Regions from separate parts of the Homo sapiens genome. Here regions 1 and 3 are each linked to region 2. The links come from fine-mapping of genetic effects on plasma protein levels. A gene starts in region 2. Each other region holds a variant in brackets. All regions are shown on one strand. Distances are between the middles of the regions.

Evidence for each region. PIP is the chance, under the fine-mapping model, that this variant and not a neighbour inherited with it causes the effect. The UK Biobank Pharma Proteomics Project read protein levels with antibody pairs (Olink). The fine-mapping took linkage between variants from a reference panel, not from the people measured, so its PIPs are less certain.
Region 1: its variant is fine-mapped to the plasma level of the ADA2 protein (UK Biobank, PIP above 0.99). The variant lies in the coding sequence of ADA2. If it changes the protein, the assay may bind it differently, which can mimic a change of level.
Region 3: its variant is fine-mapped to the plasma level of the ADA2 protein (UK Biobank, PIP above 0.99).

Annotation. Positions count from the first base shown.
Region 1 is chr22:17,184,504-17,192,682 of GRCh38, forward strand. It overlaps ADA2 (adenosine deaminase 2), which reads right to left. Exons shown (of 10, transcript NM_001282225.2): 5 at 7,180-7,307; 6 at 5,439-5,529; 7 at 3,836-3,944. Among named protein-coding and RNA genes, the nearest start is that of HDHD5-AS1, 29 kb to the left of the region's middle. RefSeq lists enhancers at 3,442-3,943, 3,944-4,443, 5,332-5,832. The variant T/C (reference allele first, on the strand shown) is at 3,913.
Region 2 is chr22:17,215,837-17,224,015 of GRCh38, forward strand. ADA2 (adenosine deaminase 2) reads right to left here and starts at 3,599. Exons shown (of 10, transcript NM_001282225.2): 1 at 3,520-3,599. RefSeq lists enhancers at 2,976-3,336, 3,177-3,246, 3,257-3,386.
Region 3 is chr22:17,241,951-17,250,129 of GRCh38, forward strand. No RefSeq gene overlaps it. Among named protein-coding and RNA genes, the nearest start is that of CECR3, 21 kb to the right of the region's middle. RefSeq lists enhancers at 1,539-1,598, 1,619-1,878. The variant T/G (reference allele first, on the strand shown) is at 3,629.

The sequences.
Region 1 (8,179 bases), 31 kb before region 2:
ATCACCCACACAATGGGCATAGCACAGATTGCTTCTTACGTGAGATAACAAATGTCCTTATTGTAAAATCGGTGGGATGCATGTACTCTATTCTTGCAGCCATAAGCATTCTAATGGATTCACATATAAAATATGAACATCTGGCTGGGTGCGGTGGCTCACACCTGTAATCGCAGCACTTTGGGAGGCTGAGGCAGGAGGATTGCTTGAGCCCAGGAGTTCAAGGCCAGCCATGGGCAACATAGAGACACCCTGTCTCTACAAAAAATACAAAAATTAGCCAGGCATGGTGGCATGTGGCTGCAGTCCCAGCTACTTAGGAGGCTGAGGTGGAAGGATAACCTGAACCCAGGAGGTGGAGGCTGTAGTGAGCTGTGATCACGCCACCACACTCTAGCCTGGGTGACAGAGGTGGAGGCTGTAGTGAGCTGTCATCACACCACCGCACTCTAGCCTGGGTGACAGAGTGCCCATGTCAAAATATATATATATATATATATATATGAAAACTCCACTTTCCTGATAGAAATAAAACTCAAGAATTTCCATTGCTATGTAGCACATGTGTTTTGGTGGATTTTCACTGGTTTTTAAAGATTTCTTTTTCTTTTTAAAAATAAGGATATTGGCCGGGTGTGGTGGCTCACACCTGTAATCCCACCACTTTGGGAGGCCGAGGTGGGCGGATCACGAGGTTAGGAGTTCCGGACCAGCATGACCAACATGGTGAAACCCCGTCTCTACTAAAAATACAAAAAATATTAGCCGGGCGTGGTGGCAGGCGCCCGAGTAGTCCCAGCTACTCGGGAGGCTGAGGCAGGAGAATGGCGTGAACCTGGGAGGCGGAGCTTGCAGTGAGTTGAGATCGTGCCACTGCACTCCAGCCTGGGGACAGAGCGAGACTCCGTCTCAAAAAATAAAATAAAATAAAATAAAATAAAATAAAAAAATAAAAATAAGGACATTACTTTTAGGTATTAGATACCCAAGTCCTGGCAAAATCATCTCCAAGGACCATACATCTTGGAACCTGTTAGGTCCTGAGCTGCAATGTTTTGTAGGGCCAGAATTATTTCACACACATAAGTATGATTTTCCCCAACCAGACCACAAGCTCTTCAAGGTTAACAACACCCTCGCCCAACCCCCTCCCCCTCAAACAATTCTTCTGCTCTCCTAGAGCAGACTTTGATCTAAATTGGATCTAAATTGACTCGAAATGTCAGGAAAAAGAGATTAATGCACAAGGTCCCTTTCTCTGAGAGAAGGTGTGATAGAGCAGAGCTTAAGCCTGGGTGGGAAATGAAATTGCCCACCACTCTCTCCACCCCTCTTTGGTCTTCCGAGGGTGACAGGTGGGATGCTGAAGAGAGCTGCCCTCCTGGTCCCGGCCTCCATGTGAACAGCCTCCTCCCAAATCTTCCTTTGGATCTGAAATTGCAGCCGTGATCTTTCTTAGTTAGGGTTTACACATTTTAAGGACTGGAATACGGGAGGGGCTGAGATGACTGAGCGAGCCCAAGGATGGAGTTCTGGGAAAGAAAGATGTGGCTGGGCTGATGGCGTTTCAGGAGGAACAGCAGCCAGGGCCTGCATGGGGCAGGGCAGGGTTTCCTCTCCTACGATAATGCGGGACAGAACATCCTAAAGACAAGGAGCAGACCTGGTTCTCCTCCCTCTTCTGCCAATTTCCAGCTGTGTGGCTTTAGGCAGATCAGTTAACCTCTCAAGCACAATTCACTCGGAGGATGGAGAGCGTCAGAAAGTGTTCCAATTCATACACATTATATACAGGCATCAAAATATCACATGAGGCCGGGTAATCCCAGCACTTTGGGAGGCCAAGGCGGGTGGATTGTTTGAGGTTGGGAGTTCAAGACCAGCCTGGGCCAACATGGTGAAACCCTATCCCTATTAAAAATACAAAAATTAGCCGGGTGTGTTGGTGGGCGCCTGTAATCCCAGCTACTCGGGAGGCTGAGGCACGAGAATCACTTGAACCTGGCAGCCAGAGGTTGCAGTGAGCCGAGATCGCACCACTGCACTCCAGCCTGGGCGATACAGTAAGACTCTGTCTCAAAAGAATTTTTTTCCGTGGCTCAAGCCTGTAATCCCAGCATTTTGGGAGGCTGAGGTGGGTGGATCACTTGAGGTCAGGAGTTCAAGACCAGCCTAACCAACATGGTGAAACCCCATCTCTACTAAAAATACAAAAATTAGCTAGGCATGGTGGTGCATGCCCGTAATCCCAGCTTCTCCAGAGGCTGAGGCAGAAGAATCACTTGAACCCGGGAGGCAGAGGTTGCAGTGAGCCAAGATCGCACCACTGCACTCCAGCCTGGGTGACAGAGTGAGACTCCATCTCAAAAAACAAAAAAATTGACCAGGTGCAGTGGCTCACACCTGTAATCCCAGCACTTTGGGAGGCCTAGACGGGTGGATCACAAGGTCAGGCGATCGAGACCATCCTGGCTAACACAGTGAAACCTCGTCTCTACTAAAAATACAAAAAATTAGCCGGGCGTGGTGGCGGGCACCTGTAGTCCCAGCTACTTGGGAGGCTGAGGCAGGAGAATGGCATGAACCCAGGAAGCCGAGCTTGCAAGTGAGCCGAGATCATACCACTGCACTCCAGCCTGGGCCACAGAGCGAGACTCCATCTCAAAAAAAAAAAAAAAAAATTTGTTTTCCTTTTTGTGTAGAATGGAATCTTACTATGTTGCCCAGACTGGTCTCAAACTCCTGGGCTCAAGTGATCCTCCTGCCTCTGCCTCCCTAAGTGCTAGAATTACAGATGTGAGCCACTGTACCTGGCTAAAACACTTTTTTTTTTGAGACAGGGTCTAGCTCTGTCACCCAGGCTGGAGTTCAGTGAGCCTGGGCTCAGGCAATCCTCCCACCTCAGCCTCTAAGTAGGTGGGACCACAGGTGTGTACCATCATGCCTGGCTAATTTTTGTATTTTTTTGTAGAGACAAAGTTTTGCCATGTTGCCCTGGCTGGCCTCAAACTCCTGGGTTTAAAGAGATCCACCCACATCAGCCTCCAAAGTGCTAGGATTACAGGCATGAGCCACTGTGCCTGTGCCCAGCCTAAAACGAATTTTTATAGCCAAAGTAGGATGATGTGAGTTTGCAGGATTATGCCCCTACCACGAAAAATTAAAAAAAAAAAAAAAAAGAAGAAGAAGAAGGATTCAAATTCAGACTCCACTGCGCACCAGCTCTTTAACCCTGGACCACTGTGTTTGGAGCCTTGGGCTCTTCATCTATCAAATGGAGATTAAAAACTGGGGAAACAATCAGAAATCAATTAGAAAAGGCCAGGCGCAGTGGCTCACCCTTGTAATTCCAGCACTTTGGGAGGCCGAGGAGGGCAGATCATGAGGTCAGGAGATCAAGACCATCCTGGCTAACACGGTGAAACCCCGTCTCTACTAAAAATACAAAAAATTAGCCAGGCGTGGTGGCAGGTGCCTGTAGTACCAGCTACTTGGAAGGCTGAGGCAGGAGACTCTCTTGAACCTGGGAAGCCGAGGTTGCAGTGAGCTGGGCGACAGAGGGAGACTCCGTAAAAAAAAGAAAAAAAAAGAAGAAGAAGAAAAGAAAACAGGAAGGAAAGAAGAAAGAGAAACTAGAAATAATACATGTAAAGTGGCTGATTCTATTATCCTTGTTATTCCTTCTCCATGGGGCTGTTGTCAGGATTAAGTGAGATAGAGCACAGGAAAGGGCTCTGGAAACGCCTGTAGGCTCTAACCCTGAGGCATGGGCCTGTGGCCAGGAGCTCTCCCATTGACCACCTCCGCTGCCTCTGCTCGCATCCCGCAGGCTCACCTGTTTCTCCGGCGTGGAAGAAGTAAGGCAGCTTAACGCCATCCTTGGCGGGGATCATCAGAGCTTCCTTGTAGTCA[T/C]GCAAGGAGTGGCCAGTGTCCTCATGCCCCACCTGCAGGACAGAGAGGGACAGGGAGGTGTCTGCAGGGCGCATGCCTCACTTGCTGATGGCGCGCCCTGGAGCCTGTGCACACCCTTCCTTGTACCCTGCCACCACTGCCGGGACCTTTGTCACACAGCCTTTTAAGAATGACCAGGAGCAGGCCAGGCGTGGTGGCTCACACCTGTAATCCCAGCACTTTGGGAGGCCGAGGCAGGCAGATCACGAAGTCAGGAGATCGAGACCATCCTGGCTAACACAGTGAAACCCCATCTCTACTAAAAATACAAAAAATTATCCAGGTGTGGTAGCGGGTGCCTGTAGTCCCAGCTACTTGGGAGGCTGAGGCAGGAGAATGGCATGAACCCAGGAGGCAGAACTTGCAGTGAGCTGAGATCACACCAATGCACTACAGCCTGGCCAAGAGCAAAAAATATATATATATATATATTTTGTAAAGACGGGGTCTCACCGATTTGCTCAGGCTGGTCTAGAACTCCTGGACTCAGGTGACCCTCCCACCTTGGCCCCCCAAGGTGCTGGGATTACAGGAGTGAGCCACTGCCCTGGACTAATCTAGATTCTTTTTTTTTTTTTTTTTTGAGATGGAGTCTTGCTCTGTCGCCCAGGCTGGAGTGCAATGGTGCAATCTCAGCTCACTGCAACCTCTGCCTCCTGAGTTCAAGTGATTCTGCCTCAGCCTCCCAAGTAGCTGGGATTACAGGTGCAGGCCACCAAGGCTGGCTAATTTTTGTGTTTTTAGTAGAGATGCGGTTTCTCCATGTTGGCCAGGCTGGTCTTGAACTTCAGACCTCAGGTGATCCACCTGTCTCGCCCTCCCAAAGTGCTGAGGGCATGAGCCACTGCACCCGGCCTAGATTCTTTATGAGATTGCCGAGCTGTCACCTAAGAAATGTCCTGGTTGTGCTTCGATTTGGTGGGGAGGTGTGGGACAATGACAACACCTATGAATGTGTAGCTTCAAAAACTGGTGTGGCCAGGCATGATGGCTGGAGAGGGAGGGACAAATATCACTACCTTGAGGATTTGCAAAGGCCTGGCTCCATCCTGGACTCTGTTTCCAGACATTACCCCCCAGTCCCCACCCCGCGTGCTACAGGGGCTGGTGAGGGTTTTAAGACCCACACCTAGGTGAGCAGTGTGGGATAGAAAAAAGGGCACAGGCAGGGCCATGGGGAATGAGCCCATAACTGTGGTCCAAACTCCCTGAATGCCATCCTTATTCTGGAACTTTCCTTGTTAGCTTGTTAGAACTGGCTGTCTGCTCTCCCTTCTCCAGTGACAGCCGTCCCCTGTAGGCCTCTGAAGAGGGTCAGCGCTGAGCTCTGAGCAGCCCTGCTGTGTCAGCAGCCTGAGCCTGCCCTGGGATGTCAGGGTACCAACAGGCACATTGCGCTCCCTTCCCAGGGAGTTGCCGCTCCACCCAGACAGGCATCCTCGCATGCCCCCTTAACAGGCAGCCCTTCTGTTCACAGCATGGGTTACCAGGTCAAACCCTGCCACCACCGTGGGGAACTTGATTCGGAGCCCCATGGCCATTCGGATGGATTCTGCGATGACAGCCACATCTTTGGATCTGTGAGACAGACAGAGAAGCCAGGAGACAGTGCCCAGCACCGACAGAGCACAAACCCCAGAGCACACCCTCCGTGCAGGGCTGGGCCAGCCCCAAGTGTGCAGGTCCCGTTTCCCAAACCTGAGGCACCCCTGCCCTCCTGACCCCACCCTGACCAGGCCATTGTGATCCCTGAGAGATATGTAGCCCAAATCCATTCTTATCAAAGACCCTTGCTGGCTCTGGGGGCACCTGTAGTCTCTGAAAAGTAGATGGGGTCAGAGGACCCACGGGAACAGTTTTATTTGTCTGCGTTTAGAGGAGGCCAGGTGGCCTTGTTCCCAGCTCTCCCTGCATCTCTGTCGGGGGTGTAGACATGGATGCAGCTCAGGGGCAGCTCTCTGTCCACTGCACACCTGCAAAGGGCCACAGGTCACCCAAGTCCCTGATGGGTCGGCTGGACCCAGTAACCATATGGCCTCTTGCTGATTAAGTCAGCAAGATCCTGGGTACTGCAGAACCCTACAGGGGCAAGGCAGGCAGCATGACAACAAAAGCCCCAAAACACAGGGTCTGGCGCAAGCCCACGACAGGCTCAAGGTCTTTGCCCTGCCACTGGCTCTCCTGCTCCAATCCTCGGCTCTGTGGGGATAAAGCCTTCCTGGCCTGCCCCACCCATGGCCTCTCCCCAGAGCCTAGGCAAACCTGGGGGCACTGATGCACTCAGCTCAGCCCTCACACCCTCCTGCCACTGGCCCTGGGAAGGGGCACCTGGCACCAGGGAGCCTCTGAGCAGAACGTGGGCCCATCCTGCAAGCTCCCTCCTAGGGGGACCGGCACAAAGCCAGAGCTTAGCTCCTCCAGGCCCCAGGCCCCATGGAAGGGAAGGGGACTCAGGAAGACTGGGCATGGGAGGAGGCTCCTGGGGAGTCAGTGCCCTCCAGAGCCCAGGCTCGTGGGTGAGCTGAGCAGAGGGAGCCGCTGCCGGATCCCTTCGGTGCCCGCCCCGTGCCTGACTCCGAGGGACCCCACTGGCTGCTGCCCTTGCAGCTGCGACCATGGACAGGTCCCAGCCTTAGACTGGCTGCTCTTTAAAGTGAGGGGAGGGGTCTTGTCTGGTAAAGTCAGAAGGACAATTAAGCTGCAAAGCTTTCTGTGCTTCCCTGGGAAAAAGAGTGGGTCTTTCACCCACGTGCCAGGCCACGCACATGGTACTACTGGAGGTCCCCACACGCAGACTTGAGCCAGTGCCACTCAGGGTGTCTCCGTGATCAAGGACTCACACACAACCACACACAGAACCCAGAGGCAAATTGAAACCAAAAACGGGCCAATTATCCAAACATTCAGGCAAAACCATTATGCTCATAAATGAGTCACCAGGCCAATGTGGGGTCACAGCCGAGAATTATCTGGGAAATTCACACATTCTTCATTTCAGTTTGGGGGTGAAGACCTGAACTAGAAGTGGCTTCAGGCAGCAATTCATTGTTGGGTCACCGCACTTACCTAGGACTGTGCTCTCACACAGGCACAGCACAGCTCCTTGGCACCAGTGCTGGGCCTCTCCCGGCCTCCCAGCCCCGCTTCTCACCCCTCCCCTCCCAGCCTAGTAGCTCTGCCTGCATCCCAGCCTCCCAACCCGAGCTTTTCAGCAATATTCTCTCTCACCTGTGATCCGAATAAATGATTTTGATTCCAATAAACTCAGGGTGAGTTTCCACAAACTTCTGAGCTACTTCCTGGTAAGTCTTCACTGACCACTCTTCGTCATGGTGCTCTCCACTGAGCTCATACACCTGGGAAGAAAGCACAACCAGGAGCCGTCAGGTGAGCAGTGAGAGACGCCACCCCCTTCCCAGCCACCCCTGCCCAGCCACCCCTGGCCAGCCACCCCTGCCCAACCACCCCCTTCCCAGCCACCCCTTCCCAGCCACCCTTGCCCAGCCACCCCTGCCCAGCCACCCTTGCCCAGCCACCTCCTTCCCAGTCAACTCCTTCCCAGCCATCAACGAGCTCTGGGAAAAGTAGATGGGGTCAGGGGACCCACAAAACAGTTTTATTTGTGTTTGGATTAGGCCAAGTGGCCTTGTTCCCAAAAGTCCAGCCAGGCTGGACTTGTGCTTCCCTTGTTCAGGTCCTCTACGGCCTTGGGCATTGTCTCTGCTGCTGCATGGGGAATTCCTAGCTGGCTCTGGGATAACCCTGATGCTGATGCCCACCTGTCTCCTTCATTGCTGGGTCACTGCACTTAAAACAGCACATGGCACACGCGAGGGTAGGTGCCCATTAAGCATCTGCATAATGGTTGAAGAGCAGGTCACGGGGGGAGAGGATGAAAGCTAGAAAGAGTGATCTGAGAATGACGTCATTCCCCACTACCTGCTCACCTCCCCACTGCTTCCCTAACTCCAGGTGCAGCAGCTGCAAGGCGGCCACTGCCACCAGGGACAGCAAGGGGGACACAGTGAGAGCAGAGTGGGGAGAGTTGGGAGTGGGCAGGTGACAAGGAAGCTAAGGGAAGGGAGGTGTGTAATGGGGAAAGGTGGCTCACACCTGTAATCATAGCACTTTGGGAGGCCGAGGCAGGGGGATCACTTGAGGTCAGGAGTTCAAGACCAGCCTGGCCAACATGGTGAAACCCCCATCTCTACCAAAAATACAAGATTAG
Region 2 (8,179 bases):
GTACAAATAGACAAGCACTTCAAGAGGCTGAGGCAGGAGAATCACTTGAGCCTAGAAGTTGAAGACTGGCCTGGGCAACAAAGCGAGACCCCCATCTCTACAAAAAATTTAAAAATTATCGGCAGGCAGATCACGAGGTCAGGAGTTCGAGACCAGCCTGACCAACATGGTGAAACCCCATCTCTACTAAAAATACAAAAATTAGTCAGGCGTGGTGGCGTGCACCTGTAATCCCAACTACACAGGAGGCTGAGGCAGGAGAATCGCTTGAACCTGAGAGGCGGAGGTTGCAGTGAGCCGATATCGCACCACTGCACTCCAGCCTGGGGAAGAAGCAAGACTTCATCTCAAAATAAATAAATAAATATAATAATAAAAATTATCCATGTGTAGTGGTACACACCTGTACTCCCAGCTACTCAGCAGGCTGAGGTGGGAGGATCACTTGAGTCTGGGAGGTCAAGGCTGCAGTGAGCCATGATGGTGCCATTGCACTCCTGCCTGGGTGACAGAGTGAAACCCTATCTGCCCCACTCCCAGGAAAAAAAAAAACCTACAGTTAGATAGAAGAAATAAGTTCTAATGTTTCATAGTAGACTAGGGTGACTATACTTAGCAATAATATTATGTATATTTCAGAGTAACTAAGACCGGGCATGGTGGCTCATGCCTGTAATCCCAGCACTTAGGGAGGCCGAGGCAGGTGGATCACAAGGTCAGGAGTTCAAGACCAGCCTGGCCAACATGGCAAAACCCTGTCTCTACTAAAAATACAAAAACTAGCCATGTGGCGTGTGCCTGTAATCCCAGCTACTTGGGAGGCTGAGGCAGGAAACTTGCTTGAACCCAGAGGGCAGAGGTTGCAGTGAGCCGAGTTCGTGCCACTGCACTCCAGCCCGGCAACAGAGCAAGACTCCACCTCAAAAAAAAAAAAAACACACACACACACACACATATATATAGAGAGAGAGACTCAAATAAAATGGATTAAAGTTAAAATAAATAAATAAATAACAAATATAACCAGAGCACAAGATCATAAGACATGCTTCAAACTGAGAAAGAAACCAAAACAAAACACACAGAGATAAGGAACTGAGAGGAAACAAAGCAACACAGGAAATAAAAGAAAAACCTGAAAGAACTGTAATTAACATCCTTAAAGACATAAAACATTGTGTGTGTAAAACAGGAACAGGAGGTGATTAAAAAAATGAGAATTAGAAAGAACTTTCAGAAATTAAAAACAGCAAAGCCGAATGTTTAAAAATTTACTAGCAATATTAAAAATGAAGTTAAAGAAAATATTTTTAAAAGTAAAGCAAAATAGGAGAAAAGAAAATGAGATGATTATTGGTTGAAGAAATCCAACACCCAAATAACAGACATTTCAGAAGGAAAAAGAAAAAAAAAACAGGTGAAGGAAATAAGCCAATAAGGAATACAAGAAATTGCCCCAGAACTGACAGTCTTTAGATTGAGTACCTTGCACAGCACAGTCAATCATTCTGTGGCCACACCAAGGTACAGCATCTTGGTATTTCAGAGCATTAGCATTAGAAAGGATTATCAAAACTTGCAGAGAGCAGCCAGTTCAGGGTGGCAACGAGCAGGGACTGAAGGAAGGAAATGTATTCAGCATCTCCTCACACAAGGCTCTATGCTGCTCCTTTACCTGGGTTATCTATTTGAATTACATTTAAGAAGGGGCAGTGGCTCATGCCTATAATCCCAGCACTTTGGGAGGCTGAGGTGGGCAGATCACTGGTGCCCAGGAGTTCGATACCAGCCTGGGCAACATAGCAAAACCAAAATACAAAAATTAGCCAGGCGTGGTGTATTGAACCTGTAGTCCCAGCTATTCATGAGGCTGAGGCATGAGAAGTTCTTGAACCTGGGAGGCGGAGGTTTCAGTGAGCCTAGATTGCACCACTGCACTCCAGCCTGGGTGACAGAGCAAGACTCTGTCTCAAAAATAAATACGTAAATAAAATTTTTAAAATGAAAATAAAACGATTGTTTCTCTACACTTGAAAGTATGATACAGCATACTGGAACATGTCAAGACTGTAAATTAGGAGACCTTAGGAACAGCCTCAAATTAGTATCATTCTAACTGTGCAACCTTGGGCAAATCACTAACGTCTCCAGATCTCAGTGTCCTCACCTACAAAAAAGGTAACTTGGACAAGATCAGTGGTTTTCCAAGTGCAGCATGAATATCATCAGTGGCATAAATACAATCTTAGGTGGCTCACAAATGGATAGGGGTTATGTTGACAGATAGGTAATTTTAAAACATGTATTAGCACATCAAACCCATGATATCGTAACTATTATTGTTTTTGTTGAAAAATTTTTAAGTTAAAGAAAAATATTAAGTAAATAGAGGTGCAAGGATATGACAAAAATGGAAAGTTTGCTACTCATTAAATCATTTTAATATCCAAGATTCTTCCCAGCTCAGTTATTCTGTAGTACATCAGATAGCAAAGAAAATTTTAAGAAGGAACTAGTATCAGCAATATGCAGTTATGGCAGAAGCTGTACCCCCAAAATCAGAGTGCTGGACGTCAGCAGAACCCCTTTAACTTCATTAAGTCCTTGACTCTCTTTTTTGACCACGGTGTTTGCCTGCTACTAAAATCTCTAGGGCAGGAGCACGGTGACTTCTATGTCACCATCCCACCTACCCCATGCCACATTCTCCATCAACAGCCCCGCCCCTTGTCCCTGTCTCCCTGGTGACACATAACAAAGGCCATCAAGCTCCCAAATCTTCAACTCCATCCTCTCCAAGAAGGACCCCAAAAGCATTTGTGTCCCAGCAACTGTGAACTTTTCCAGGCTGCCAGACAGAAGTTTATCTAATGGTGGTCAAGACCTGCCTGGTTGAATACTAGTAAAAACAATCCTTATTCACAATTTATTGCTATATCTACTTCATCTTCTCTCCTCCACAAGATTTTCCTTTTACTTTTAAAAGAGGATGCATGAAAACTTCATAAAGTAGTTTGCTTCCAGACTAAGAAGAAAGGAGGCTGGGTGTGGTGGCTCTGCCTGTGATCCCAGCCCTTTGGAAGGCCGAGGCAGGCAGATCACCTGACGTCAGTCGTTCAAGACCAGCCTGGCCAACACGGTGAAACCCCGTCTCTACTAAAAATACAAAAATTAGCCGGGCGTGGTGGTGGGTGCCTGTAATCACAGCTATTAGGGAGGCTGAGGCACAAGAATGGCTTGAACTCGAGAGGCAGAAGTTGCAGAGAGCCGAGATCGTGCCACCACACTCCAGCCTGGTGACAGTGGAGTAGGCCACATGCATCTGTGGTCCTGAGTAAATGCCCTTGGGCCCATTTTCAAAAGCCTGTTGGGAGAAAGCCTGTTACTCCTCCACTGAGAGTCTCAGACCCAGCTCAGATGGAGACAGGGAGAGGTGCAGGTGGATCAAGCCCAAGCTCCGGACTTCCCAGCTACCTCCTGAACCTCATCATCCCACAGCTCCCAAAGGACCCCAGTTACCTCGGAACAGCTCCAGAAACTGAGGGCTGTTTGCTCAGCGCCCCAGCATCTGTGCAGAGCACCGGAAAAGCTCACCAACTGTTTCACTTCCTGTTGGGGTAGGTTTTATTTCCCTCCAGTGTGCACCAGGGATCCAACTAGAGGCCGGGGAGAGGGGCTCTGCAGTGCTGAGGCAGCCAGAGTGGCAAGTGTGTGGCTTACATGCATGCTTGCTGTGTGCATCTGAGTTTGATGTGGGGGGCTTGTGCGCATGTTCATGTGGGTGTTTGTGTGTTCGTGTGTGTTTCGGTTTATGTGCATGTGGGGTTTGTTTTTTTTTTTTTTTTTTTTTTTTTGTAGACAGAGTTTCACTCTTGTTGCCCAAGCTGGAGTGCAATGGCGCAATCTCAGCTCACTGCAGCCTCCGCCTCCCGGGTTCAAGCAGTTCTCCTGCCTCAGCCTCCCGAGTAGCTGGGATTGCAGGCGTGCGCCACCATGCCCCACTGATTTTTTGTATTTTTAGTAGAAATGGGGTTTCACCATGTTGGTCAGGCTGCTCTCGAACTCCTGACCTCAGGTGATCCGCCCACCTCGGCCTCCCAAAGTGCTGGAATTACAGGCGTGAGCCACCATGCCCGGCCGCATGTGGGTTTATTTGTGTTGGAGGGAGGGTGTGTGTGTGTTTGTGTGTACTGTGTCTTTGAAAGGTCCACAGCATGTTGGTTTTGGAAACAAGCACCGCAAAGAGGCACTCCAAAATCTGTTCATGAACTCTGGGAAGTTCTCCTTCCTCAAAATGTGATTGTGGACTGTGGGGCAACCCATTAGACAGAGAGTAAAAAGTAGCTATAATAAAATATATGTTTTAGGGGGGAAATCAGGGATGCGGGGACAGGACAGTAGAGGGGGCAGGAGGTAGGAGACAAGAGCTGGGGTGTGAAGAGGACCAGCAAGAACAACGCTCCAAGGGACAAGTGGAGCAGACAAGGCTCCTGTACCCAGGACGGTCAGAGTCAGACCTCGCTTTGTAGCTGGCCTTAGCACTGTAGCAGTGGGGCCTCGACCAAGTTGTTTCAACTCTCTATACTTCAGTTTCCTCATCTGAAAATGTGGATAATAAAAGCACCCACCACAGAGGGTCCATTGTCAGAATTAAAGGAAAAACACATGCAAAGTACCTGCCACATAGAAAGCTCTTGATAAATATTAGCCATGACTATTCTTAGAAGTAACTATTGGGATGCCTCATCCAAGCCAATTAGAAATGCAGACATGGGAGGCTACACCAGGGACCTCCATGTCACATGCATGGTCTAAAGACTCGATTGCACCCCACTCCTCCCCAGTCCCACTCAAATCTACCCCCAAGACCCCAAATCTACCCCCAAAAGCCCACGGCAGTTTCAGTTCTGCAGCTCCCATACATCTGGAGCCTTGATGCTCCTTTTTGTCATTTTCTCCAAAAAGTACCAAGGTCATTCATTTAATAAACAGGAAGAAATCCCAAAGTGAAAACACAGAGGGGTCAGGGATTCCCTCATCAAGAGTTCAAGACTAGGCTGGGCTCAGTGGTGCATGCCTGTAATCCCAGCACTTTGGGAGGCCGAGGCAGGTGGATCACAATGGAAGGGGTTCGAGACCAGCCCCTACTAAAATACAAAAATTAGGTGTGGTGGTGCGCACCTGTAATCCCAGCTACTTGGGAGGCTGAGGCAGGAGAATTGCTTGAACCCTGGAGGTGGAGGTTGCAGTGAGCTGAGATTGCACCATTGCACTCCAGTCTGGATGACAGAGTGAGATTTTGTCTCAAAAAAAAAAAAAAGAGTTTAACACTAATTTTTTGAAAGTTAGAGGAAGCAGAATGCACCGCAAGTAATAAGGAGAAACAAGATTGATTCCAGCGCCGCACAAAGGGAAACCACCAATTCTGAAAGTAAATCATGTGAAGGGTTTTTTGTGGGTTTTTTTTATACTTTAAGTTCTAGGGTACATGTGCACAATGTGCAGGTTTGATACATAGGTATACCTGTGCCATGTTGGTTTGCTGCACCCATCAACACATCATTTACATTAGGTATTTCTCCTAATGCTATCCCTCCCCCAGCCCCGACCCCCCCGACAGGCCCTGGTGTGTGATGTTCCCCTTGAAGGGTTTTTTTAAAGACCAGGTCAAAGCTAAAGATCAAGCTTTTCTTTCCAAACGCTTTAGCTAAAAGTAGGAGCTAATTTTCACATCTCCGAAGGTGGCTCCAGGACTCCAAGTCACACCTTGGCAAGGGTGTGGCAGCTGGCAGAGGACTGCAGGTCCTTGTCAGGCAGAACCTGCCGGGTTCTGGGGAGTGGAGACTCAGATCTTGAGGTGGAAGCAGAGACAAGAGCTGGGCACACTTACCTGGATGTGGGGTTGGGAGCGGTGAATCAGAGCCCAGTTAGATCCTGGAGGCTGGCAGCAGGCTCTGCAGAGGTGCAGGGGCACCTCATTCAGAAGGGGCCATTTATTGGCCCTCTGTGGCTAAAACCAGCTCCAAGCAGGACTTTTTATGGCTGGAGTCGCCTCCAAAGGGGCGTCGGCCTCCACTCAGGTGTGACTCTGAGCGTTGCCTAGCTGAAAAGGCGTGATGATAGGGAGCACACGTGAGGCCATTCGGGAAGAATATTTTGCCAAGTGCAGAGGCCGTAAAAACGTGGAACATGGCTCTGTTTTTTATGCTCTATTGAAAATGATCATCAGAAGCAGAAACTGGGCTTGTGTTCAGAACCTGAAAATCTGCAGGGCAGAAAAACAGGACAAAGGCATCTTTTAGTGACTGCAAAACTAAACCTCAACAGAAAGATGCCTGAAGAGACAGGTGGATTATGACCTCAGAATTGGAGACAGGAGAGGTTTTCAGAATTAAAGATCATCTATGGCTACACAAACATTTGAGAGGTATTTTCATTAAAACATCCCTTTCTTCACACCAATATCATGAATTATATGCTATGCACAACCTATAACAGAGTATAGCAGAGTTACCAGTGGTTTAAAGTGCTGCATATATGATTGTTATATGAGGTAAATAAGATTCTCTGACCCAGAGTTAAGAAAATGGAAATAATAATTGCTAAGGCATATTAAGAATTATATATGTATGTGTGTGTGTATATATATATATATATATATATATATATATATATATATATATATATAACATTTAATCCCTACAGCAATACATACCTATAAATGAGTATATACAAATATGTGTGTGTATGTGTGTGTGTGTATATATACTCATTTAATCCTTGCAGCAATCTTATAAGGTAGGGACTATTGCAATCCCCACTTGAGAGAGGCGTACCCTGAAGCACCTGGCAGTAAGGTAACTTGCCCAAGGTCACACAGCTAGTAACAAGCATAGCACGGCCTTGCAGGCCCAGGTGGGTTCCACCACACCGCTTTCCCTGGCAGCAAGAAAATGGAAGGTTTTTGAAGTAGTGGGGGAGTCACCGGGCACAAGGAAGCAGATCCCTGGAGGAACACACAATTAGCAAAAGTGGAGCCCAGGAATAGACGTTACCAGGCATAAGTGATTTTTCCAGACACTGGGAACTTGTGTTTTGAAACACCAAAGTATTTTTAGGAAGCAGAAAAGTTAGCTCTTTCATTGAACTGCTATGTGGTTTTGAAGAAAATGTCCTAATATCCATAAAACTCAAAGCTTTAATCTGCAAGAAGGAAAAAATGTCATGTGCCTCCTACTAAGTTTTTTTTTTCTAAGTAAGTTTTTTGTGTGTGTGTATGTATGAAATAATATATGTGAAAATTTTTTTTTGAGACAGAGTCTCGCTGTGTCACCTAGGCTGGAGTGCAGTGGCACAATCTTGGCTGTCTGCAGCCTCTGCCTCCCAGTCTCAAGCAATTCTCTGCCTCAGCCTCCCGAGTATCCAGGATTACAGGCACCTGCCACCATGCCTGGCTAATTTTTTTTTTGTATTTTTAGTAGAGACGGGGTTTCACCATCTTGGCCAGGCTGGTCTTGAACTCCTGACCTCGTGATCCACCTGCCTCAGTCTTCCAAGTGCTGGCATTACAGGCGTGAGCCACTGTGCCTGGCTGAAAATATTTTTAAAACTATAAAGCAACTATACAATTACACAGCATAAATGATTTTCATTTTTCTTTTTTTTTGAGAAGGAGTTTCACTCTTATTGCCCAGGCTGGAGTGCAGTGGCATGATCTCGGCTCACCACCACCTCCGCCTCCCGGGTTCAAGTGATTCTCCTGCCTCAGCCTCCCGAGTACCTGGGATTACAGGCATGTGCCACCACGCCTGGCTAATTTTTGTTTGTTTGTTTGTTTTGTTTTGTTTTGTTTAGTAGAGACGGGGTTTCTCCATGTTGGTCAGGCTGGTCTCCAACTCCCAACCTTAGGTGATCTGCCCGCCTCGGCCTCCCAAAGTGCTGGGATTACAGGTGTAAGCCACCGTGCCCAGCCCAGCATAAGTAATTTTCCTTGCACAAATCTTTCTAGTATTTTTTCTGGCTTCTTAGGGTGCAGTGAACATAATTTGATCTTTTTTGAGGACTTGGTATCATTATTATGAGCATTTATCATAATACTTTCTATTGCTATTGCATTATCACTCTATTTCCAATGCCAGTGAGGTGTGGAGCTTTGTTTGCCCCTGTCCTAAATGGCTTC
Region 3 (8,179 bases), 26 kb after region 2:
GGGAATGTGAGAGGGTGGGGAGGGGTGTGGAGTGGCCAGGATCCAGGGGAGAATGCCCCACGGAGACAGAGACCCTTGGCTTGGTATGAAGGGAGCACAAGAAGGAGTAAATCCAGGACACGGCTAGACTGTGGCACCCCTGTGGGAGTGCCCGCACTTAGGGACACATGACCTTGGGGGAATTCTGGACAGCTTAGAGGCTTACTCCATGACAGAAGATACTTCCCTTCTGGAGACCTCAACTTCTCTCTGTGTTAGTTGGCTGAGGCTGCCATCACACAATATCACAATCTTGGTGACTCAAAAAACAGAAACTTATTTCCTCACAGTTCCCTGGGCTGGAAGTCCAAGATCAAAGTGTTGACAAGCTTGGTTTCTTCTGAGGCCTCAGTGTGCCAACAAGGACCCTTGCTGTCTCTTCCCACTCCGAATTTCCTGTTCCTATAAGGACGCCAGTCAGATTAGATTAGGCCCACCCTAAGGGCCTCCTTTTAATTTAATCACCTCTTTAAAGGTCCTATCTCCAAGTACAGTCACCTTTTGAGGTACTGAGCATTAAGGCTTCAACACACGAGTTTTGGGCCAGGAGTGGTGGCTCACAACTATAACCCCAACACATTGGGAGGCTGAGATGGGAGGATCCCTTGAGCCCAGGAGGTCGAGGCTCAGTGAGCTATGATCGTGTCACTGCACTCCAGCCTGGGCAACAGAGCAAGACTCTGTCTCAAAACAAAACAAAACAAAACAAAACAAACCCATGAATTTTGGGGGAGACACCACTCAGCCAGCAACACTGTAAGTATGGAATACTAATACCAACCTATTTCACTAGTTGAGGGAAGTGATTTCAGAAGAGGGGGCTGAGATTTGTCATAATCAGCAGACCAAGTTTAGATGTAAGTACCTCCTGCAAAATTTCAGAAAGATCTGTCTTGTCCTTTGTCAACAGAAAAAATCACTCCTTCATGCAAGCATTTATTGAGTGCCTCTCTGTGCCAAGTTGGCTCACTGCAATGCAGATATTATCTGATCTAATCAAGGGGTATTTATTGAGTGGCGTTGGAGGTTAAAGGAGTATCAAACAAACTTGATCCCAGTCCTGAAGGAGCTTGTAATTCTTGCTGGAAAGGCAAGACCAACTCATAGGAAACAACAGGAACAGCAGCAGGTGATATACAACTGAGTTCTAAATTGTGTGGTGCAGACTTCAATTGCTGCTGGAATTGGGAATGAGGAAGATCAATGAGGGAGCGGGTCAGCACCAGCTAAATCACTTAGACTGAGGCATTCATCAGCCTGAGCCATTGTTCACGCTGCAGACTTTCTGTTCAAAATGGTAAAAGCCAGTCCGAGGCTGGGCACGGTGGCTCACGCCTGTAATCCCAACATTTTGGGAGGCCGAGGCGGGCGGATCACATGAGGTTGGGAGTTCGAGACCAGCCTGACCAACATGGAGAAACCCTGTCTCTACTAAAAATACAAAATTAGCCGGGCGTGGTGACGCGTGCCTGTAATCCCAGCTACTCAGGAAGGCTGAGGAAGGAAAATCTCTTGAACCCAGGAGGCAGAGGTTGCAATGAGCTGAGATCACGCCATTGCACTCTAGCATGGTCAACAAGAGCTAAACTCCGTCTCAAAAAAAAAAAAAAAAAAAAGCCAGTCCAAAAGCCTCAGTCACAGGGATGACTCAGGACCTTGAGTTTCATTTCATGTTTCTAATGTCATGAGACAACCGTGGGCCTCGCCCTGCTCAGCAGAGTCCTACCCCCCACTTTCTCCACACAGCTTCCCCTACTCAGGGTACATGAAAAAGGGGTTCCCCACCACAACTCTATGGCCACACCCCAGGGGGCAAGTTCAACCAACAGGCCAGGCGAATGAGCCCCATCTGTGCCCCATTCCCACCTGATCGGACCCCACAGCCCTTTGGGAGCACTCAGATACTGGTGAGAATGCCCCTGTTTGCTTGGGGGGCCCGTGGCTACTTATTGACGGCACAGGGCATCTGTTGAGAAGATGCAGGCAGGGGAGGGAAGGAGAGAAAGACAAGAGGAGCCTATGCAATTGGCGAGAGACACAGAGGACAGAGAACATGGGGAACTGAGGACTAGAACGGATTTCTGGCCTGACCCGTTCTGGGGGACTCCTTTTAGACCAGGGGTCTGTGTTGGCCCGTGAGTGCAGCTGGGCTCTCTCCACCTCTTTTCAGCCTCCTCTGCCACTCTGAAAGGCCCCAGGTTTTATTCCCGGTTCACATTGCCGCACCCATAACCCAGGGAATGTGGCAGCCCCTGCTGGGGTTTCACAGGCGTGCAGAGGGTGCCTCTGGGTAGGGCTTCATTCCTCTATGGGCAGGAGTCCCTGGGCACTGACCACGCCCTAGTGACAGCCAGAGTGCCTTCATTCCAAGTGCTATATTAGCAGTATCTTAAAAACCTGTCTGAGCCGGGCGCGGTGGCTCACACCTGTAATCCCAGCACTTTGGGAGGCTGAGGTGGGCGGATCACGAGGTCAGGAGATCGAGACCATCCTGGCTAACACGGTGAAACCCCATCTCTACTAAAAGTGCAAAAAATTAGCTGGGCGTGGTGGCAGGCGCCTGTAGTCCCAGCTACTTGGGAGGCTGAGGCAGGAGAATGGCGTGAACCCGGGAGGCGGAGCTTGCAGTGAGCCGAGATCGCGCCACTTCACTCCAGCCTGGGCAACAGAGCAAGACTCCGTCTCAACAAAAAAAAAAACCTGTCTGAAACAAGTACGTGAGAATTCACTTCTTCTTCTTTTTTTTTTTTTTGAGATGGAGTTTCGCTCTTGTTGCCCAGGCTGGAGTGCAATGGCACGATCTCAGCTCAACACAACCTCTGACACCCAGGTTCAAGTGATTCTCCTGCCTCAGCCTCCTGACTAGCTGGGATTATAGGTATGCATCACCATGCTGGGCTAATTTTGTACTTTTAGTAGAGACGGGGTTTCTCCATGTTAGTCAGGCTGTTCTTGAACTCCCACCTTCAGATGATCCACCCGCCTTGGCCTCCCAAAGTGCTGGGATTACAGGCGTGGCTACCTCGCCCAGCCGAGAATTCACTTTTGCTGAGAAAGTAATGGAGGTCCCACGGCCATTTTAGGAGCAACATTTGTTGGGGTGGAGTGGAGATCGGTAGTGCAAAATTGACCCTCCTAGATTACCCAAGAAAAATGAGCCCAAATCTGAACTTCTGAAGACACAACTTGAATTCACCACCTTTTTAAAATCTTTTTTTTTTTTGAGACAGAGTCTAGCTCTGTCGCCCAGACTGGAGTGCAGTGGCGCGACCTCGGCTCACTGCAAGCTCCACCTCATTTAGTTCAGGTACTAAACGGGTCACTGGGCTTAGTGGCAAGAGTTCCTAATGAGAAATACTACTTGAGGACTTACATTGTGCCAGATGCTTTACATGTGTGGCATCATTTAATCTTCCAGATATTATAACCATTGTCATTGTAGAGATGAGAAAACTGAGTCCTGAAAAGCTGACTAGTCTGGGGACATCACTTGTTCAAGGTCACATGGCTAGTCGTTGAGGAAAGCAGAATTGAACTCAGGTGACTCCATGGCCCATGTATGAACCACTGGGCCACACTCCCTCACTTA[T/G]AAGCTGATGTTGTCAGTTCTCACTATCAGCAGGGTTGGTGCCTCTACAAAACCACAATCAGGAAGGGAGAAAGGCCTTAGGAATAATATTCTAGGCCTTCGACTACAAACTACAGCCTGCAGGACAAATTTTTTTCAACTTTATTGAGGCATTTTTTTTTTTTTTTGAGATGGAGTCTCGCTCTGTCGCCCAGGCTGGAGTGCAGTGGCGCGATCTTGGCTCACTGCAACCTCCGCCTCCCAGGTTCAAGCAATTCTCCTGCCTCAGCCTCCCGAGTAGCTGGGACTACAGGCACGCACCACCACACCCGGCTAATTTTTGTATTTTTAGTAGAGATGGGGTTTCACCATTTTGGTCAGGCTGGTCTCGAACTCCTGACCTTGTGATCCGCCTGCCTCGGCCTCCCAAAGTGCTGGGATTATAGGCATGAGCCACCGCGCCTGGCTGAGGCATATTTTATATATATAATTCATCCCTTTCAAGTGTACAATTCAATAATTTTAGTCAATTTACCAAACTGCACAGCCATTACCTTAATACATTTTAGAACATTACCAGTAAGACCATACTTTCAGGGATATCACTTCTAGAGTTTATTATAGAACACTGTCAGTATCCCAAAAGGATCCCTCATGCACACCTACCTGGAGGTCAAAATAGAACCTTCAGATGTTGTGCTTGGTCCACCATATTTAGAATATTCTTTTGATGGCTGGGAGGAGTGGCTCAAATCTGTAATCCCAGCACTTTGGGAGGCCGAAGCAGGCGGATCACATGAGGTCGGGAGTTCGAGACCAGCCTGACCAACGTGGTGAAACCCCATCTCTACTAAAAATACAAAAATTAGCCAGGTGTGGTGGCACATGTCTGTAATCCCAGCTACTCTGGAGGCTGAGGCAGGAGAATCACTTGAACCCGGGAGGCTGAGATTACAGTGAGCCGAGATCACGCCACTGCACTCCAGCCTGGGTGACACAGCAAAACCCCGTCTCAAAATAAAATAAAATATTATTTTGAATTTTTTGCTAGCTTTAAAAAAAGGAGACAACATCACATAGTATTAAAATTTTTAAATTCTCCTAGAAAAAAAAATCAGAATATTGGGCAAAAGGGGACTCTTCTTCATACAAGGCAAAACCAGTAGCTGCCCCCTTTAGACAGAGCTGGTGCTCTCGGGTCCACTCCATAAAATCAGTAAGAGGGTGCAAGTGGGGTCCCCAGAACCATGGCCTTCTAGCCTCCAGCCCAGACCCTTGGTTCCACAGCTCTTGGCAGATGGCAGAGCAGTCACGGCACTTTGTTATTAGAAAAAGCAAGTGCTGCCGGGTGCCGTGGCTCACGCCTGTAATCCCACCACTTTGGGAGGCCGAGGCGGGTGGATCACAAGGTCAGGAGATCAAGACCATCTTGGCTAACACGGTGAAACCCCGTCTCTACTAAAAATACAGAAAAATTAGCCGGGAGTGGTGGCAGGTGCCTGTAGTCCCAGCTACTTGGGAGGCTAAGGAAGAAGAATGGCGTGAACCCTGGAGGCGGAGCTTATAGTGAGCCGAGATGGCGCCACTGCACTCCGGCCTGGGTGACAGAGCTAGACTCTGTCTCAAAAAAAAAAAAAAAGAAAAAGAAAAGAAAAAAAAGAAAAAGAAAAAGCAAAAGCAAGTGCTAGGCCAGGCACAGTGGCTCACGCCTATAATCCTAGCACATTGGGAGGCTGAGGCGGGCGGATCATCTGAAGTCAGAAGTTCGAGACCAGCCTGACCAATATGGTGAAACCCCGTCTCCACTAAAAATACAAAAGTTAGCCAGGCATGGCGGCGTGCACCTGTAGTCCCAGCTACTCAGGAGGCTGAGACAGGAGAATTGCTTGAACCCGGGCGGCAGAGGTTGCGGTGAGCCGAGATCCCGCCATTGCACTCCAGCATGGACGACAGAGGGAGACTCCGTCTAAAAAAAAAAAAGCAAGTGCTTCATCCTCACCAAAAAGGAGCTATTCTTTTTACTTGGGCAACCTTCTCTGAAAGCAAAGTCACCTGTCTTGTAATGAAGCTTCGCAATTAGGGTTTACACACGATGTGGCAAAGGAACGCTCACAGTTTGCTGTCTCTTTGGCATCAACTTCTCCCTGCACATAAAGCGGGCATTTCTCGAGCCTGGCTTTTTGGCTTTCCTTTGCTAGGCTCCATGTAGACACACTGCCCTTTGGGGAGCTGTTGACAGGGTTGATTAGAGAATGACTATCTTCGGTTACTATGGGAGACACTGCTGGTTGTCCACCCAGTTCCTCCTTTGTTCCTTACTATTTTGTTCACAGTGGCAATATTTTCAGGGAAGGTGAACCCAGCCCTAAGGAGTGAACTATGATTGGATAGCTCACTCTGCGGATTCCAGGTTTCCTTGTGATTGGATAGAACGCTGCGGATTCCAGGCTTCGTTGTGATTGGATAGAACTTAGCGGATTCCAGGCTTCCTTGTGATTGGCTAGAACTCTGCGGATTCCAGGCTTCCTTGTGATTGGATAGCTCACTCTGTGGATTCCAGGCTTCCTTGACAGTAACTGGCTTAGGAGTAGGCATATGACCCATTCTACTCAAAGAGGCATAAGCGGACACTGACGTTTGCTGGCAGGGGATGAGGAGCTTGGAAAAGATCCTCCTCCCGTTTTGCCATCTTTGTTTCTTGCCACAATAGGATGTAACCATTGGCGCTGCAGCAGCCACCCTGCGACCATGAATGGAGAGCCAAGAGAATGGCAGAGGGTAAAACACAGCTTTCCCATTGTTTTGTTTTCTTTTGTTTTGTTTTGTTTTTTGTTTTGTGACAGTCTCAAACCGTGAGACGAATAAAACCTCTTTTTTTTTTTTTTTTTTTTTTTTTTTTGAGATGGGGTCTCGCTCTGTCACCCAGGCTGGAGTGCAGTGGCATGGTCTCGGCTCACTGCAAGCTCTGCCTCCCGGGTTCACGCCATTCTCCTGCCTCAGCCTCCCGGGTAGCTGGGACTACAGGCGCCCGCCACCACGCCCGGCTAATTTTTGTATTTTTAGTAGAGACGAGGTTTCACCATGTTAGGCAGGATGGTCTCGATCTCTTGACCTCGTGATCTGCCCACCCCGGCCTCCCAAAGTGCTGGGATTACAGGCGTGAGCCACCGCGCCCAGCCAGAACCTCTTTTCTTTATAAATTACCCAGGTATTCCACTATAGCAGTGCAAACACATTGCTCGCCACTAACACAACCCTGTGCCTTTCTTTTTCCTTTTGAGACGGAGTCTTGCTCTGTCACCCAGGCTGGAGTGCAGTGGCACAATCTCGGCTCACTGCAACTTCTGCCTCCCGAGTTCAAGTAATTCTCATGCCTCAGCCTCCCAAGTAGCCGGGACTACAGTTGTGTGCCACCAGGACTGGCTAATTTTTGTATTTTTAGTAGAGACAGGGTTTCACCATGTTGCTCAGGCTGGTCTTGAACTCCTGACCTCAAGTGATCCGCCTGCCTCGGCCTCCCAAAGGGCTGGGATTACAAGTGTAAACCACCACACCCAGCCAAGCCTGTGCCATTTTAAAGGTAGGGAAACCAAGGCTCAGGATCTTAAGTGACTTGTCCAAGATCAAAAAGCCGAAAAATTGGCTGGATGTGGTAGCTCACCCCTATAATCCAGTACTTTGGGAGTCTGAGGTGGGAGGATCACTTGAGACCAGGAGTTCCAGACCAGCCTGGACAACATAAGGAGACTTCATCTCCATAAAAATTTTTTAAAAATTAAGCTGAACATGATGGCAAATCCCTGCAGTCCCAGCTACTAAGGAGGCTGAGGCAGGAGGATGGCTTGAGCCCAGCAGTTTGAGGCTGCAGTGATTCATGATTGCATAACTGCACTCCAGCCTGGGAAAAAGAGCAAGACCCTGTTTCTAAATAGATAAATACTGAATAAATAAAATGAAATGTTTTAAAAGCTGAAAAATTAGGCTGGGCACAGTGGCTCACGCCTGTAATCCCAGCACTTTGGGAGGCCAAGGCAAGTGGATCACTTGAGGCTAGGAGTTCAAGACCAGCCTGGCCAACATGGTGAAATCCCATCTCTACTAAAAATACAAAAATTAGCCAGGCATGGTGGCGTGTGCCTGTAGTCTCAGCTACTTGGGAGGTTGAGGCAGGAGAATCGCTTGAACCCGGGAGGTAGAGGTTGCAGTGAGCCGAGATGGCACCACTGCACTCCAGCCTGGGGGACAGTGTGAGACTCCGTCTCAAAAAATATTGAGACTCTGTCTCAATAAAAAATAAAAATATTGGCCGGGTGGCTCACGCTTGTAATCCCAGCACTTTGGGAGGCTGAGGCAAGTGGATCACCTAAGGTCAGGAGTTCAAGACCAGCCTGGCCAATATGGTGAAATCCCATCTCTATTAAAAATACAAAAATTAGCCGGGCATGGTGGTGCGTGCCTGTAGTCTCAGCTACTTGGGAGGCTGAGGCAGGAGAATCACTTGAACCTGGAAGGTAGAGGTTGCAGTGAGCCGAGATGGCACCACTGCACTCCAGCCTGGGCAACAGTGCGACA